Regions from separate parts of the Homo sapiens genome. Here regions 2 and 3 are each linked to region 1. The links come from fine-mapping of genetic effects on gene expression. A gene starts in region 1. Each other region holds a variant in brackets. All regions are shown on one strand. Distances are between the middles of the regions. Region 1 holds the start of VRK2 (VRK serine/threonine kinase 2). Region 2 overlaps VRK2 (VRK serine/threonine kinase 2). Region 3 overlaps VRK2 (VRK serine/threonine kinase 2).

Region 1 (5,948 bases):
CACACATTTAAAGATTATATAGAGTTTCTGCTAGGTTTTCTCTAAAAAGTTTGAGATTTAGATCTTGTATTTAGATTTAGCTGTATGATCAGTTTCAAGTAAATTTTTACATGGGGTGTGAATTAAGGGTTGAGGTTTCTTTCTTTCTTCTTTTTTTTGTATATATGGATGTCTAGCTGTTCTAACATTTGTTGAATATTCTGCCATTCCTGGGGCTTTAGATTAGTACTTTTTCCCATCTTTGTGGTCACACGATGACTGCAGCCATTTTAACCATCACATCAGAGACTATCTCTTCCAAGAATGTGTCCAGCAAACTTCTTTTCACCTCGTTACCTAGACTCAGCACATGCTTATTTTGTACTGTCTAAACCAATCATGGGAATTGGAATGGGGCCAGCATGGTTCATTTATTCATTGAAGAAGGAAATGGTTGCCCATATCCTTTCTAGGGGTTGGGGATACAGTAGTGACGAAAACAGGCAAAAATGTTGCCTGACCTCATGAAACATACAATTTACTGAAAAAGATTGTCTTTTGTCAAAATAAATAATAAACTGTATAATATATTGCTGTATAGCAGTAGGTACTGGGAAAAATACAGGGAAAGAGGCTACGAAATATTGTGGGTGAGCTGAAATTTCAGATAGGATGTTTAGGAAAGGTCTCACTGAACTGACTTTTAAATAAAGACCTGAAGGAAGTGATGGAGCAGTCTATACGGATACCAGGTTGGAGAGTGGTCCAGGTGGCAGTAAATGCGAAAAGTTCTTGAGAACAGCAGGCCACTGTGGTTGAAGAGAGTAATAGGACATTGGGGAGTGGGAGTGCATAATAGGTAGATCAGTGTTCTTTTCAACGACTGGCAATTTTGGCAAAATTTCGTCATGTTGGGGGATATTTTGGTTGTTAACTTGTGTGGGAGGGAGTGCTGAGGAGACCAGGGATACTGCTAAATATCCTACAATGCACAGGACAGCCTATCTCTCAATCCTCCTCCTTCTCCCAAACCCCCAACAAAGAATTATCCAGGCTGACTGTCAATAGTGCCCAGGTTGAGAAATGCTGTTTAAAGTCATAGCGAAGACTGGCTAATTGTGAGTAAATTGGAATAACACTGAATTGTTTTAAGCTCAGTAATTATTTAAGCGTTAAGGATCATGTGGCTGCTTGCTGTGAACAGACTAAAGGGATAAGAGGGTATAAAACATTTAGGAGGGTAATACAATTACCTAGAGAAAAAATATGGTTTGGGCCAGAATGCAGGTAAGGGTGCTAAGTGATAGATGCTGGATGTATTTTGAAGGTTGAGCCAACAGGATTTACTAACACTGGATACATGCCTGTAGGGAGAGGAACCACCTACAAGTAATCTGCTGTGGTTGCTACTGGAGTTGTTTCTTCTCAAAAGGGAGCCGGGGAAGTGGTGGAAAGCTAAACAAATTTGGAAAGGAGGAAAGAGTACCCAATATGGATATTAGGATTATTATGCATCTGTTACATAAATATCTGTAATTATGCATCTGTTATATAAATATCTTAAGAAAATAAGAAAGGACACTGTTGGACCAGTGAATGACTAAGGGCACAATTATTCTATGGACTGTTTCTTTAAAAATACTTTTTTGTTTGTTTTTAGAAACGTCTTCTCATGCCATCTTTCATTTTGGTGACAGTCTGAAAGATGTAGGGAGCCCCAATTCCTTATTCTATCAAAGTCATTAAAGGGCTCTAATTTTCCTTTCAGTATTTGTATCCCAACCAATTATTGGTGGTTACTATGTAGAATGCTGACGTATTAATAATCTTTGTCTAAGCATTTGTTTGGTTTAGTCTAAAATATAAGCTTACTATGAGTCTTTTTTTTCTTTCCTTCGAGACTGAGTTTCCCTCTTGCTGCCCAGGCTGGGGTGCAGTGGCGCGCTCTCTGCTCACTGCAATCTCTGCTTCCTGGGTTCAAGCGCTTCTCCTACCTCAGCCTGCCGAGTAGCTGGGATTACAGGCGTCCGCCACCACGCCTGGCTAATTTTTTGTATTTTTAGTAGAGATAGGGTTTCACCATGTTGGCCAGGCTGGTCTCAAACTCCTGACCTCAGATGATCCACCCGCCTCGGCCTCCCAACGTGCTGGGAGTACAGGCGTGAGCCACCGCACCTGGCCACTATGAGTCTTTATGTATTAGAAAACTGCTTAATAAAGTCCTCACCTTATTGTCATAATCTTATAACCAATAACCTTATAATCTAACAACAAGGGTTATTTCCATTTCACAGACAAAAAAACCTGAAGTTTGTTAATTACGGTGTTAAATTATCCTACGATTAATGGCAGAAATAGGTCCTGAACCAATATGCCTTTGAGAACTTAAACGCGGTGAGTTACATACAGGCCCTCCTAACTGGAGTCTTCGCTAGTACCAATAGTTAGTTGCTCGGCGAGAGCTCGGTAAGGACTAGCCATTTGGAAGCTCGTAGTACTCAGGTTGTGGTACAGGAGATCTAACACTCCTACACAAATGCATGTCGTGCTTATTTCGTACCAAACTGGTCTGGCGGCGGTTCTTCGTCCAGACGCTGGCGGGCCAGGGTGGAGGTAGTAACACAGCTCCCATTCCCCATGTAGCCGCGCCCTCTCCTTCCCCTGGGCGTCTCCGGGGCGTGGACAGGCCGCTGAAAGGAACCGGCTGCGGCCTGTGTGAGGCTCCGCGGGCCGCTGCACTGCGAGGCCGACGCAGCTGGAGAGAAGTTAGGCAGGTCCTAGGGAGGGCAGGCTCGAGTGCTGGGCCCGCCTCCCCGCGGGACTGTAGGCCCGGGGGCTCCGCCTCGTCGCAGCGGCAGGTAGGAGGCGGTGCGCGCGGCCCGGCGACGGGGGATCCTGAGGCCCGGTCAGTCTCTTGCTCTGGGGTCTTGGGTGGCGGGCGGCACCTCCGCTTGCAGTGCCGGAGCCGCGGCCCCGCTCGGAAAAGGGCTGCCGTCGGAGTTAGATGCCGGGGACTCCGGGCCGTCCCAGCCCCCGGGCCTCAGCTCCGGCCCGGGCAGAGTCGCTGCTTCCGCGTTTGGTTCTTTTTTCCCCGCTGGGAGTGAGAACAAGGCGTCCCCTTCTACTCACGTTTGCCAAAAGCGGGTCCGACGTGTTAGCGGAAAAGTGGGTGGAGTTTCTCTTTTTGCCGGTGCAGAGAGAACTTGTGGCGGGAAGTTGGGGCGCGGGGTTGGCCGTAGGTCCCCGGCGTGCTAAGGGCGGACGGACCAGGCGGCTGGGCCGCGCTGCTTCTCGTTACCTTCCGCAGGGTCAGGGGCCGCGGCGGGGTTGGAGGTCAGCCCAGGCACATGTTAACCCCTGGGTACCAGTTTGCTCGGAAACTCGTGTTGAGGACTCATCTTAGCCCTGGGAAGGTACCCAGAAGCCGAAGGGACACCCCTGACAGGGACGGGCCCTGAGAGGCTGTCGTTTCCCTTGGCAGATGAACTCGGGACTCGCCCCCAGGATGTACATTTCGTAGAGTCTCCCTTACCGCCTCAAGCCCTGAGGCCGCTGCCTTGCCCCAAAGTGTATTTATCTTTTTTATAATTATTTAGAATTTATTCCTTAATCAGTAGTTTACACTTTGGAGACTTTAAGTTTTAAATCAGTAAATCTGTAATAGGCACCAGCCTATATAATGTACTGGTCAAGGGAAACCTCCACAAAAACTTTTCCTGCTTTATGATACAATCAATGCTCTAGGCATAGTTCACCATCCAAATTCCCAGCCCTTGTGTGCCTATCAGGAGGAAGGTGAATATTGTTAAAGATACACGCAGCGACTCTACCTGGGACAATACTGCTAAGTAAAAAAGCAGTTAAGTGAAGGAGGAAAAACCCGTTAAAGGAAAAACAGATACTTTCTTTTATGGAAGCTAGGAAGATTATATTAAGAAAACTTTACATTTACGTATATACGTTTTTAATTAACTTTCATGTCAGAAACTCTTAATAGTTTTAAATACTTAGAGGATCATGGTTACCTTCACATTTAAATTATTTTCAGGCATGTATGCTGGCATATGTATTTTCCCCTAAGAAATTTTCTCTTTTAACTCAGAATTTCCCATTGAGAAATTTGCTAACCTATGTACAATTATAATTAGTTGATTAAAGTTGCATGGCTGTGCTGTGGAGATTATGCTTTTGTTGTTGGTGGCACAGTTGTAATCTCTAAGGCAGGACTGTTTTCACTGTGATAAACTGAGAAAGAGGGTAAGAAGACAAAATGCTGAGAATATTTTGGCAGCCCGAGAACTGATGGCCTAGTATTCTGCTAAGTTACATATCCGTGAAAATCCCTGGCTCATTTAACAAATGTTTACTGAGTACCTAGTATCACGGTGGTGAGATGTCCATTGCCATTGTCTGTGTCTTCCCAATCCAATCCTGTGTTCTTTTCTAGTGACTGAAGACCTTCTCACTTTTAACATTTTACATTCTCAGTGACAGCAATATTTCCATGTACATGAAATTTATTTTCTTTCTTCATTGGAAATTGTTAATTTCGTGTTTCTTAAGGTGTGTCCTGCACTGTTAATATGTGCTATAGAACCCCGAAATGAATTTTGGATGAAATTTGGTTAGTTTGCTTCTGTTTTTTTAAAATATCTATACCTCTTAGATCTCAGTATTGTAATGTATGTGAATTTCTAATTTGAATATAATGTGTGGGCTTTTCCAAACTGAATTAACTTTAGAATCCTAATTTCTGGGAACCTGGGAAAGTTCCCTATTGAAGACATTTTGGGAAGTGTATTTTAAGAGTTTTGTTTGTTTGTTTTTCTTTTTACCCATTTATCTCACCCCTTCTGCCAACAGAAGTGATGCCACCAAAAAGAAATGAAAAATACAAACTTCCTATTCCATTTCCAGAAGGCAAGGTTCTGGATGATATGGAAGGCAATCAGTGGGTACTGGGCAAGAAGATTGGCTCTGGAGGATTTGGATTGATATATTTAGGTAAAGTAAAACCTTAAATTAACAATTATTCTTATATCTGTGACTGTAACCGTGATTACTTAGTGGTATTTTAAGAATGGAAATATGGAATTCATATGTGTACTTTATTAAAATTCATGATTGTACTCGATTAAGTAATAATAGAGTACAGTGTCTAGGTTCAAGACATCACTGACCCACTCCTTGTTGTCCATGTTTTTCTGAGTAAATCTTAGAAGTCTTTTTAGAGCATAATTATACAATCTGCCAGACAAAATGCTAACTTTCTTTTTTTTTGAGAGCTTGTTTTCTTAGAAACATGCTTTTTTCAGATGAGAAACCACAACTGTATAGATAAAAACACTTTCTGTTTGTGAATCTTAATCAATATTTAGGCAATACAAGAGTCTAGTCATTTCTTAATTGGGCTCTACTGGAGAATTCATAGATAAAACTTAAGGCATCTATTCTGTGAAATGAATTAACTTCTCTCTCGTGCATCTAGAGTGGTCCCTAGGGATGTGCCATTCTTGGGATAATTGAAAAAATAAACACTCAAAATTATTTTCTGTGATCTGTGGTACAGGTAAGGAACCATGGGCTGGATAGGCCTTTACATTGCATTTAAGCATTTAAAAATTACACTGAACTTTAATGGATCATTGAGTTGGAATGAGGAGGGGATATCCATTAAAAGATTGATTAATAAAATAAGGAAAATAGTAGTGATTTTTAAAAATATACCCTCAAGGATAAATTCTCCTAAATGTACTCACTTGAGACTTGAGATCACATCTATTTCTATAGGAGATTAAGGAGTTGATAAAATACCTCCGTTGAGGGAATCTTGGGTTCTCATCACATATTTCCAGAAAAACATGCTTCATGGATCCTGAAATATAAAAGATCCTCTTCTGATAAAATTAAGATTGTAGTTTTGAATGAATGAATGAATGAAGTTTGGTCAATAAATATCTGCTTATTAA
Region 2 (5,948 bases), 100 kb after region 1:
TCTAGAATTTCATAAACATGCAGTCATATAGTATGCATTCATTTGGGCCTGGCTTCTTTCACTCAGTGTTTTTTTTTTTTTTTTGAGATTTATCCATGTTCATGCATGTATTAGTAATTTGTTTTTTCCATTGCTGAACAGCACTCCATTGTATAACTATATCATAGTTCACATGTCCATTGTGTAACTACATCATAATTCACAAGGCCATTCTCCTATTAATGGACATTTGGGCTACTACTCATTTCTGGCCACCATGAATATAGTTGCTACAAACATTCTGGCACAAATCCTTCAATGGACATGTTTCATTTCTCCTGAGATGTAGAATTGCTGGGTCGTAGGGCAGGTGTATGTTCAATTTTATAAAGAGCTGACAAATAGTTCTTGAAAGTACCATTCTGTACTCCCACCAGTAATGTACAAGAGTTCTGGCCATTCCATGTCCTCCCCAATATTTGGTATTGTCACTCTTTTTAATTTTAGCCTTTCTAACATGTGTATTAGTGTATTATTGCGTTTCCAATTATTCACCTGATGTCTAATTAAGTTTGAGCACTTTCACGTTTTTACTGACCTTTCATATATCTGTTCTTACAAAGTTTCTTTGTCGAGTGTTCTAATTTTTATTTGGATATTTGTCTTTTTATTGTTAAGCCACAGGAGTCCTTATCAGATATCTGTATTATGGATATCCTCTCCTAGCATGCGGCCTGCCTAATCATTTAATTCATAGTATCTTAGGATGTGCAGAAGCTTTTTATATTATTTGTTTTTTTATTTGAAGTTCAATTTATCAATATTTTAATAGTTTTTTTGTCGTTTGTTTGTTTTTCTGTAAAGATACCTAAGAAACCTTTGCCTACCTCAAGGTCACAAAGTTATTTTGCTATATATTTCTATACAAGGCTCATGGTTTTAGCTTTCATTGTTGGTTCTATGAGCCATCTCAAATCAATTCATGTGTATTGTGTGAGGTGGAGGTTGAGGTTCTCTTTTTCATATAGTTTGCACCATCATTTATTGAAAAGATGTTCCTAATGAATTTCTTTGGAGCCCTTTTCAAAAGTCAGCTAACTGTGTGTGTGAGCCTATTTCTGGGCTCTATTTTCTTCTATTCTACTTGTCTCTCCTTACACCAACACCACACTGCATCAATTACTGTCGCTTTACAGCAAGTTCTGAAATTAGAATAGTTCTTTAATCCTTTTATTTTCTTTCAAAAATGTATTGGCCATTTTAGGTCCTAGTCTCCTCCATAAAATTTAAGAAGCAGCTTGTTAGTTTCCACCAAAAAATGCACAATGGGATATTGACTGGGAGTACATTAAGTGTAAAGATGAGTTTATGGAGAACTGGCATCCCAACAATGTCGACTCCTCCAGTGCATAAACCTGGTACTTCTCTGCATTTATGTGGAACTTCTCTGCATTTATGTGCATTTTCTTTAACTTCTCTCAACAGTGTTTTGTAGTTTTTAGTGTAGATGTCTATACATCTTCCATTAAAATTATCTCTAAATATTTTTGATCCCATTTTAAGTAGTAATTTTCAAAATTTCATATTCCAGTTATTTGTTGCTGGTATATAGAAATAGAATTTATTTTCTATTTCTATATCAGTTATATTTGATATACAATATAATCATGTGTCTTGGGATCTTTCTAAATGTACTTATTAGTTCCAATAGGTTTTATTATTTTTTAAATAGATTCTTAGGACTTTCTACATAGTTAATGATGTCTGTGAATAGAGACAGTTTTACCTCTTCCTTTCCAATATATGCCCTTTATTTATTTTTTATCGTTGTCTTATTACATCTGCTAGCAGCTCTAGTATTACGTTGAATAGAAGTTGTGACAGTGGCCATCCTTGCTTGGTTCCTGATCTTAGGGGGAATGCATTCATTCTTTCACCATTAAGTTAGCTGTTGATTTTTTCTAAATGCCCTTTATCAGGCTGAGGAAATTTCACCATATTTGTTGAAAAATAAATGTAAATAATGAATATTAAATACTGTTTTGAGATCTTTTGAGATGATCACATGATTTTTTCCCTTTACTAGTACGATGAATTACACTGATTTTTAAATGTTAAATCAACCTTTTATTTCTGGGATAAACCTCCAGTTAGGCATGATGTGTTTTCCTGCTGAATTCTGTTTGCTGAATTCCAACTCAATTCCTGCTGAATTTCAGTTCCATGGAAGGTTTTTATACCTAGACTGATGAGGGATACTGGTCTGTAATTTTCTTTTTCTTTTCTTTTTTTTTTTTTTTTTTGCAAAGTGAAAGCAAGTTTATTAAGAAAGTAAAGGAATAAAAGGATGGCTACTTCACAGAGCAGCTGTAATTTTCTTTTGTCGTAATATCCTTGTATGGTTTTGTTTTCAGGGTCATTATGAATTATACCAGTTGGAAGTGTTGCACTCTGTTTTCAGAAAATGTTTTTGTAAGATTTGCCTTTCTTAAATGTTGGATAGAATTGAGCAAGAAAACCATCGGGGCTGATAATTTGTTGTAGGAAATTTTTTAACTGCACATTTACTTTCTATAATATATAGAGTGATCATTAGATTTTTTTTCTTGGGTCAGTTTTATATTTGTATTTTTCAAAGAATTTGTCCATCTCATCTAAGTTTTCAAATTTATCAGCACTAAGTTAGGATATTCTTTATTTTCCCTTTATCATCACCAATATCTATATTGATGTCCCTCTTTCAGTTCTGATAATGGTAACTTTTGGTTTCTTTCTTTTTTTAGTAGTCTAGCTAAGGGCTTATCATTTTCATTGATCTTCTCAAAGACCAGCTTTGGTTTTTTTTTTTTA[GT/G]TTTTTTTTTTTTTCAAAGACCAACCTTTGGTTTTGTTGATTTTTTTAAAAAAACCTACCATTGATATGTTTTCTGTTTCACTAATTCTTTATCATTTGCTTGATTCTACTTATTTTGCATTTAATTTATTCTTTCAAGCTTCATAAGGTGAAAGTTTAAATCACTAATTTTTTCCTTCATTTTTTTTCTAACGTATATAGTTAAACCTATAAATATGTAAGCTGTGCTTTGGCTGTCTATTTCACAAATTTTGATGTGTTGTGTTTTCATTATTAATCAGTTCAATGTATTTTCTAATGTCCCTTGATTTATTTGACCCATGGATTATTTATTAGTATGTTATTTAATTCCTAAGTATTTTTAAGGTTTACTGGGTATCTTTTTTGTTATTGATTTCTAATTTAATTTTGCTGTCATCAGAACACATCCTGTATTATTGCAATCTTTTAAAATTCACTGAAACTTATTTTGTCACCAAGGAAAAGGCCTAGTTTAGTGAATGTTCCTTGTATACTTATGAAGTTTGGGGTTGTTTAATAGTGTTCAAATCTTATATATTCACTGTTTTATTTTGTCCTCGTTTTATCATTTAATGACAAAGGAATGTTACAATCACCAACTGTAATTGTGAATTTATCCATTTGTCTCTTCTATACATTTTTGCTTCTATACATTTTTGCTTCATAGATTTTGATGCTGTTATTAGGTATATGCAGATAGTAGTTATATGTTCTTGGTTAACTGTCCTGTTCATCATTCTGAAATATCTTTCTTTATATCTATTAAATACTCTATCTTGAGTTCTACTTCATCTGACTTTTAACAATTCCAGCCTTCCTATGATTAACATTTATACATTGTATCCATTTCCATCCTTTGTTTAATCCACTTGTGTCTTTTTATCTGTGGCTTTTGTAACTAGCATATAGTTGAGCCTCGCTATTTTATAAAATCTGGCAAACACTATCTTTTATTTGCTCCATATCTATTTCATGTAACTATATTTGCTCCATTTCCATTTGAGGTAACTATTGATATAGCTGGGTTTAATCTACCATTATGCAGTTTGCTTTCTTTTTGCCCCATTTGTTCTTTGTCCCTTTTTACCTCCCTCTTGCTTTATTTTGGACTGATTGAGAATTTTTTTTTAACTATGCTTCTATGCTTGTTTTTTTTTTTTTTTTTTTTTTTTTTTTTTTTTTTTGGTGGTCACTCTAGAGCAAGGGGTCAGTCAGCTCCATAGCCTATGGGCCAAATTCAGCCAACCACCTATTTTTGTAAATAGTTTTATTGGAACATAGCCATACTCATTCACTTACATATTGTATTTGATTGCTTTTGTTCCATAGTGGCAGAGCTAACTGCAACAGAGACTGTATGGTCAAAAAAGCCTAAAATATTTACTCTCAGGCATTTTACAAAACAAGTTTGCAAATCCCTGCTCAGCACAATCCTGCCTAACAGAAATATAATGCAAGCCACATATGCAATTTAAAAAATTCTACTAACCACATTTCAAAAAGTAAAAAGAAACAGGTAGAATCTATTTTAATAACGTCCTCTGATTAAACCAGTATCCACAATGGTATAATCAGAATAATATTACTGAGATACTTACATCTTTTTCTAAAGTCTTCAAAATTTGGTGTCTATTTTATAGTAACAGCACATCTCAATTATAACTAGCCATATTTCAAGTGGTCAAGTCATATTAGACAGCGTGGCTCTAGAAATTACCATGTGCACATTTAACTGATCATATTACATTCTATCTTGACTTAATGTGTAAGAACCTTAAAAATATATACTTCCCTTTATCCCTCATCCTTTGTGCTATTGTTGTTATACGTTTTGCTTTTACATGTGTAATATATTTCAGAATGCATTGGTATTGTTGCTTTAAGGAGCCATTTTTCATTTTAAAAAAATTAAGAAAGGAAAAGGAAAAAAAGTCTTAACATATCCCAGTATTTACAGTTACTGAAATTCTTTATTCCTTCAATAGATCTTAGTTTGGTATAATTTCTCTTCAGCCTGAACAAATTCCTTTAACATTTATCATAGTATATATTTCCTGGAATCTAATTCTGTCACCTCTTGTCTGTCTGAAAATATTTGTATTTCACCTGCATTTTTTTTTGTAGTGGTGGATTTATATTTTATTTCTGCATTTTTTTAACAGTTTATTTTGAAGTAACTGTAGACTCCGAAATTGCAAAAATACATACAGCCTCCCTATACCCTTACCTACCCTTTCACCCAACTCCTGCAAATGAAAACATTTTACATAACCATAATATAATTTTACAAAGCAGGAAATTGACATTCATATACTACCATAAAATACAGACCTTATTAGGATATCACCAATTTTGACATGTACTCGTGCATGTCTGTGTTCCTTAGATATTTTATAACATGTATGGAGTAACCACCACAATTATCCTGCAGACCTGTTCCATGACCACGTAGGAATTGCTCATGCTATAGTGACACTCTCTTCCCAATCCTAATCCTCAGAAAGCAGTGGGTTTATTCTGCATCACTGTAATTTTATCATTTTGAGTGTATCATATAAATCAAATCTTATGATATGTAACTTGTTGAGAATGGCTTTGTTTCATTCGTCATCATGCCCTTGAGATCGATCCAAGTTTTGTGTACATGAGCAGTTCATTCCTTTTTATTGCTCAGTAGTAATCTGAAGTATGGATATACCATTGAAGAACATTTGGTTTCTTTCCAGTTTTTGTCCATTCACTATTCAGTAGGTTAGCTGTAGACATTTTTATAGATGTTCTGTATAAAGTTGAGGAAGCTCCCCTCCATTTCTAATGTACTAAGAGTTTTCATCATGAATAGGTGCTGAATATTGTCAAATGCTTTTTCTGTATCAATTAATATGATCATGTGATTTTTCTTCTTTAGACTGTTACCATAGTGGATGACACTGGTTTGTGGTTGAATATTAAATTAGTCTTCCATTCCTTGAATCAACCCCACTTCGTCATTTTATATTATTCTTTTTATATGTTGCTGGATTTAATTTGCTAGTATTTTAATGAGGAGTTTTACATCTGTGCTCATGAGAGCTGATGTCTGTTGTTATCTTTTTAT
Region 3 (5,817 bases), 110 kb after region 1:
TGGCGGGTGGAGACTCAAGGGAGGGTCATTTTTAGAATTTTCAGTGTTTTGATAGGTGCTTTTTGTCCACTCTTTAATTACCAGAATAAGGTGGGATGCTTACTCTTTCTTGTCTATAACTGGATGCCCCTCACTTTGATTTTGAAAGCTTCATTGAATATGGAATCTATTCTTTCAGAACTTTAAAAAGGATGTTTCCATCTTCATAGGTCTGTTTTTTTTTCTGCTAAGAAGTTAGCAGTTATTCTTATTGGCCCATTTATAATGTATTTCTTTCTGTGGCTTTCAAGATTTGCTTGTTATTTTTGGTTTTGTAAGGATGGCTGTCTTTTGTTTATTGTGCTTTGGGTTCGTAGAGCTGCTTTTATCTGTGGGTTGATATTTGTCTTCAAATTGGAAAGGTTTTGTATGATTTCATCAATTTGTTTCATGCCTTAATCTCTCTTATTTCTCTGAGTTCCAAATACATGCATGTTAGAATACTTTACCTTTTTCATAGGCAGCTAAATAACTATTTTTTTAAATCAGTCTTTTATGTTGCTGTACCTCAGGTTGGGTGGTGGTGTTTTTTTTGTTTTGTTTTGTTTTGTTTTGTTTTGTTTTTGCCTGACCTCTAGTTGATTGTCAAATCAGCTGTTAAACCTAGCCAATGAATTTTTCATGTTATACCCTGTATTTTTCAGTTCCACAAGTATATTTCTTTGTATGTTGAGATTCCACCTCCCCCATATCTGTTCATTAATTATGTTCAACTTTAATTCCTTGAACATATTTATGTAGATGTTTTATAGTCCTTGTTTGATAATTGTACCATCTGGATCAGCCCTGAATCTCTGTTAATTTTTTCTCCTGGTTATGGGTCACATTTCCTGCATCTCATTTGTAGTAGTTTTATTGTATACTGAACATTGTGGATGCTGTGGTCTTTAGACTCCAGATTTTATTGCATTCCTTTAAAGAGTTTTGAGGTTAGTTCTGGCAGACAGTTAACTTACTGGTGACTAAACCTGATCATTTTATAAGTTCTGTTCAGGCTTTTTTGGCCTAGTCTGCAGTAAATCTTAAATTGTGGCCTTTCTTAGGTCTGTGTTATTTTCCCTTCCTGAGCTTTGTTTTAGATCCCTAAGTTATTTCACATATTTTGACTAATTTTGTTTTCTATTATTTATTTATGGGTTTTCACAGCAGAAGGGGAAGTCTGGTATCAGATTTTCATGGCCAGAGTGGAAGTAGTGTTGCTATTTTTCATAGCTTCCCAGTCGATTCTGATGTGCATTCAAAGTTAATAACTATTCTAATGTAGGGTTTCTTGACAGCTGCACTGTTGACATTTGGGAGCTGAGCTGTTATTTGTTGTGGGGGTGCTGTCCTGTGATGTAGGATGTTTCGCATCATTCCTAGTACTTATCTACTAGGTGTCAATAGTATCTCCTCCTAGCTGTAACAACCCAAAATGTCTCCAGAAATTGCTAAATGTCCTCTGTGGGGCAGGATCAACCCAGGCTGAGAACCAATGCTCTATCACAGTAGATTATTGCATTGCCTTGAGCCCTTTGCTACTCAAAGTGGGGTGTGCAGACCAGCTGTATTGGCATCATCTGGAGCTTCTCAGAAATACAGAATCTCAGGTCATACTCCTAGACCTTTTGAATGAGATCTGCATTTTAACAAGTTATGATGATCTGTTTGCTTTCTAATACTCGAAGAATAATGCCGTAGAGCAGGGGTCAGCAAACCTTTTCTTAAAAGGCCAGAAAGAAAATATTTTCAGTTTACTTTCCATACAGTTTTTGTCAGAACTATTCAACAATGCCATTGTAGTGCAAAAGCCCACATAGACAATACATAAACAAATTGATGTGGCTCTGTTCCAATAAAACTTTATTCACAAAACAGGCAACTAGCCAAGCCAAATTTTGGCAACTCCTGTTATAGACTATCCTAATCAGACCCCCTCAGTGTACTGAAGACAACAGGTGGTTAAATTCTTTGATGAGTGCCTTGCCATATGATGTCATTTGCTGATGTTCAAGAGAGATTAAGTGTATAGATTACACAGTAGATGATTCTGGAAATTATAGTAGCTTGACTTCTATCCTTACCTAAGTGGAGATATCTCCCAGCCTTGCACATGTGAGCTATATGTAAATGCTGCTCTATGATTTGATAGCATAATTATTATTTGTATTATGCTTTATAGGCCTACTGGAATAATTATTCACTTATTTTGACTTTAGTTAATAAAGCTGACAAACTTATGAAAAACTGCATTAATGTGACTTCGTTAGCTCAGAAAGAGTAGTTTAAAATGAGTTATTTAACTCTAAAGTGAGTCATTTAACTCTCAAGTAATTTTTTTTCATAGGAAAGCTAGTAGTTTTTAAAACATCCTTTGTTTTATGTAGGACTCCTTTCTGACACTTCCAAAACTCTGTATCTAGAAAGGGGAGGGCTGTTTGTTTGAAGGGTGGCAGTTTAAAGGTTGAGAAGGTAGTAGCTATTCTGAGAATGATGGACAGTGAACAAGCTTAAAGTATTTTGCTTTGTTTTATAAATTTCTTCTCTTCTAAGTTAGTTACTTGATAAATGGTGCTGAGGGGGCATGCCAGATGTCACCAAAGCAAAGCAGAAAAACTCGACTTTCAGCCAGTTAAGTGGTGATCAGGAAACTGATTCCTGGGACTTTGGCCAACAGGAATGATGAAAACATAGAAGTAGCTCCCGAAACTTGCATAAGTAACCAGTTAATTTGTTTTATATTAATACCACTTAATTTGCTTTATATTAATATCTATTCGGTCTATACTGGTTCGTCTGTATAGCTTTCCAAGAGACATAACACTATAGCTACCCCTGAGGCAGTTTTCTTTGGCTGTGTACAGCCTCATCCTTTGCCCACTGTACAGTGGACACTTCTCAGTTGCCATGGAATCAGAAGGTAAAGAAAGAATCACATTAATGACCAAAATATTTCTAATTATGGCTATCTTACCCCCTTAAGATTAAGCCCAATTTTTTGGTTTTGCCAAGAAAATTCAGTTTTCATATTCTATCCTATTTATTTTTAGATTATAAATTACTTAAGAGATGGCCTACT[G/T]ACGTGGTTTAAAAGAACCACTCAAATTATATCCAGATTTGCTTGTTGGATGTTTATAAACTCTTAAAAAGTGTAAATCTTTAAGATCTTTACCTAAAAATTACTTCTCAGGAAAAATAACACGCAAAAACTTGATCTTGTATAACATTTTATTTAGCATTCTTACACACTACACAAAATAAATACTTGGATAACTCACGTCTAACAAACTAAACTATATATGTATTTTTTCCATAGGAAAGCACAAGGAGAAGACAGAAATATCAAGAGTCTCAAGAACCTTTGAATGAAGTAAACAGTTTCCCACAAAAAATCAGCTATACACAATTCCCAAACTCATTTTATGAGCCTCATCAAGATTTTACCAGTCCAGATATATTCAAGAAGTCAAGATCTCCATCTTGGTATAAATACACTTCCACAGTCAGCACGGGGATCACAGACTTAGAAAGTTCAACTGGACTTTGGCCTACAATTTCCCAGTTTACTCTTAGTGAAGAGACAAACGCAGATGTTTATTATTATCGCATCATCATACCTGTCCTTTTGATGTTAGTATTTCTTGCTTTATTTTTTCTCTGAAGATGATACCAAAATTCCTTTTGATAATTTTTTAAGTTTCCAGCTCTTCACCGAAATGTTGTATTCTTATTTCAGTGTTTCCTTCCAGACATTTTTAAGGTAATTGGCTTTAAAAAGAGAACATATTTTAACAAAGTTTGTGGACACTCTAAAAAATAAAATTGCTTTGTACTAGAAATAGTGTCATAGAATAGTGTCATAGTACAGTTTGGAAAACACTTCTGAAGTTTCAGATCACCTAGGAAATCTAGAAAAGGAGTTTAATGTTTTTGATCAGAGAATTTGAAAAATAGAAATACAGAGAATGAGTTTCAAAAGTTTTAGATAAACTGATATACTATATAGATCTATCTTCTAGAACATATTACTGAAAGCTAGGCACATTTTATGAGATGTGATTAACAATTTGCTTACCTTACTACAATATGGACATTCACCAAATATGATGTTAAAACTCTGTCTACTAGTTAGTAGTCCTCTCAGCCACTGCAAATTTTAAAAGATAAAGGAGAAGCGTCAGCATGATTACAAATTACAGATACTCCAAATGTCATTCCCTTTGTTTTTAAGTGCATTATGTTTTTATTCCAGAAGACTTAGCTTAATTTTGTTTTGCAAGAGTAAGGGATGTATTTCCTGAGCCAATAGCAGACTATTAAGATGTTGAGTAACAAGGGAAATCAACATGGAATTGAAGGCCTAAACCACTGGTTTATAACCAGATTATGGGCCCCTTTAAGAATCTGATAAGAATTACGCATTTTCTTTATCCCCAGAATAGACATACATAAAAATAATGCATACTAAGTTCCTGGCATTCATAGACTTTCCCTAAATCCATTAATCACAAATTAACAACTCCTGCTGTTAAAGATACTACAGGCTCTTGAAAATTTCCCTCTTAGTTCTGGTCTGAATCACTAACAGTGGGTTAATTTTCAACCCATTGATTATAAGCATGAGCCAGTGAATTTTTAAAAATTAAATGAATATTCATAATTACAAAAGAAATCACATGTTCCCTTAGAGTATTTCTGTAATTTGACCTGTATTTCTGTAATTTCATGATTTTATATAAGGTAAATAGATGCCTCTGCCTAAGTTCTCCATTGGCAAAGTACAGACGGCACCAACTGCTACCTCTAATCACAAAAGTAAAGATGTGATATTAAGGAAGACTGAAACCGAAGGCAACATACAATTGCAAGGTGTTCTGTATATAGTTACACACAGTTTATCATGTATCAACTAGGCCCTAAGGTGAAGCCAGGCACTAAAGACAGGAATGAAAGTAGACTTCACATACAGTAAGTAAAGTGGCATTGCCTGAGTGCTGTGAGACTCAGATCACAAAAGGCATTCTTCTCAACATGAAAAGTAGTAGTATTGGATATATTCTATTCTTAAATGCAGCCTGAAAAGTAATAGATACTACATAGTACTAATTTCATTTTCACTGTATTACTGCCACTTTCAACCACCTCCACCTCGGGTAAACCTATGAAGCTTACATTGTGGTAACAAGGAATTTATAGAAAGATTCCAATGTACCATCAATTTAATTTGTTATGTGTCAATAAGCTAGTCCATGAATATATTCTGGATAGATTTTCTCCCTTGGATACTTCAGAACATTTCTCCACTCATTAGTAACTGTGATGAAGAAATGAAGCACATAAGCATCTGGAATAAACTGGTAAAAGGAGTTAATGGCAAAAGAGAGGATCACTATTGACTCAACAGATTTTAGATTCTGTGTATTTCAAACAGGAATACTTCCTATGTTGTGTTAGCGGAAAAAAGTCTTGACAATATTTTTATTTTTTACCTCATATAAGCATATTTGATGGAAAGGTTGTCCACACTGAGAATTATCACACACTTGATCAGGAATGGTACCGTCAAGTTGATAAGCATAACAAATTCCACAATCCATAGTAAAATCCTTCAAAAGAAAAATATTTATAAAAAGCGTATGTGTCTCACTAACTTATTCGTTGTACATATTTGGGAGGGTATGTGTGATATTTTGATACATGTATACAGTGTTTAATGATGACATCAGGATAATTAAGATATTCATCACCTCAACATTTACCTTTTATGTTGGGAACATTACAATTCTTCTAACTACTTTA

The links. PIP is the estimated chance that this variant, and not a neighbour inherited with it, causes the effect.
Region 2: its variant is fine-mapped to the expression of VRK2 in whole blood (INTERVAL, PIP above 0.99).
Region 3: its variant is fine-mapped to the expression of VRK2 in blood mononuclear cells (TOPMed, PIP 0.97).

The regions. Positions count from the first base shown.
Region 1 is chr2:58,043,985-58,049,932 of GRCh38, forward strand. VRK2 (VRK serine/threonine kinase 2) reads left to right here and starts at 2,822. Exons shown (of 13, transcript NM_006296.7): 1 at 2,822-2,884; 2 at 4,843-4,983. The coding sequence starts at 4,848. LOC107984043 (formin-2-like) reads right to left here and starts at 3,249. Exons shown (of 3, transcript NR_171623.1): 1 at 2,540-3,249. RefSeq lists enhancers at 2,090-2,645, 2,535-2,654, 2,646-3,201 and a silencer at 2,805-3,074.
Region 2 is chr2:58,147,733-58,153,680 of GRCh38, forward strand. The region is part of intron 12 of VRK2 (VRK serine/threonine kinase 2); the gene reads left to right. Among named protein-coding and RNA genes, the nearest start is that of FANCL, 91 kb to the right of the region's middle. The variant GT/G (reference allele first, on the strand shown) is at 2,830.
Region 3 is chr2:58,156,015-58,161,831 of GRCh38, forward strand. VRK2 (VRK serine/threonine kinase 2) reads left to right here. Exons shown (of 13, transcript NM_006296.7): 13 at 3,335-3,857. The coding sequence ends at 3,679. It overlaps FANCL (FA complementation group L), which reads right to left. Exons shown (of 14, transcript NM_018062.4): 12 at 5,508-5,624; 13 at 4,094-4,165; 14 at 3,233-3,786. The coding sequence ends at 3,751. Among named protein-coding and RNA genes, the nearest start is that of FANCL, 82 kb to the right of the region's middle. The variant G/T (reference allele first, on the strand shown) is at 3,098.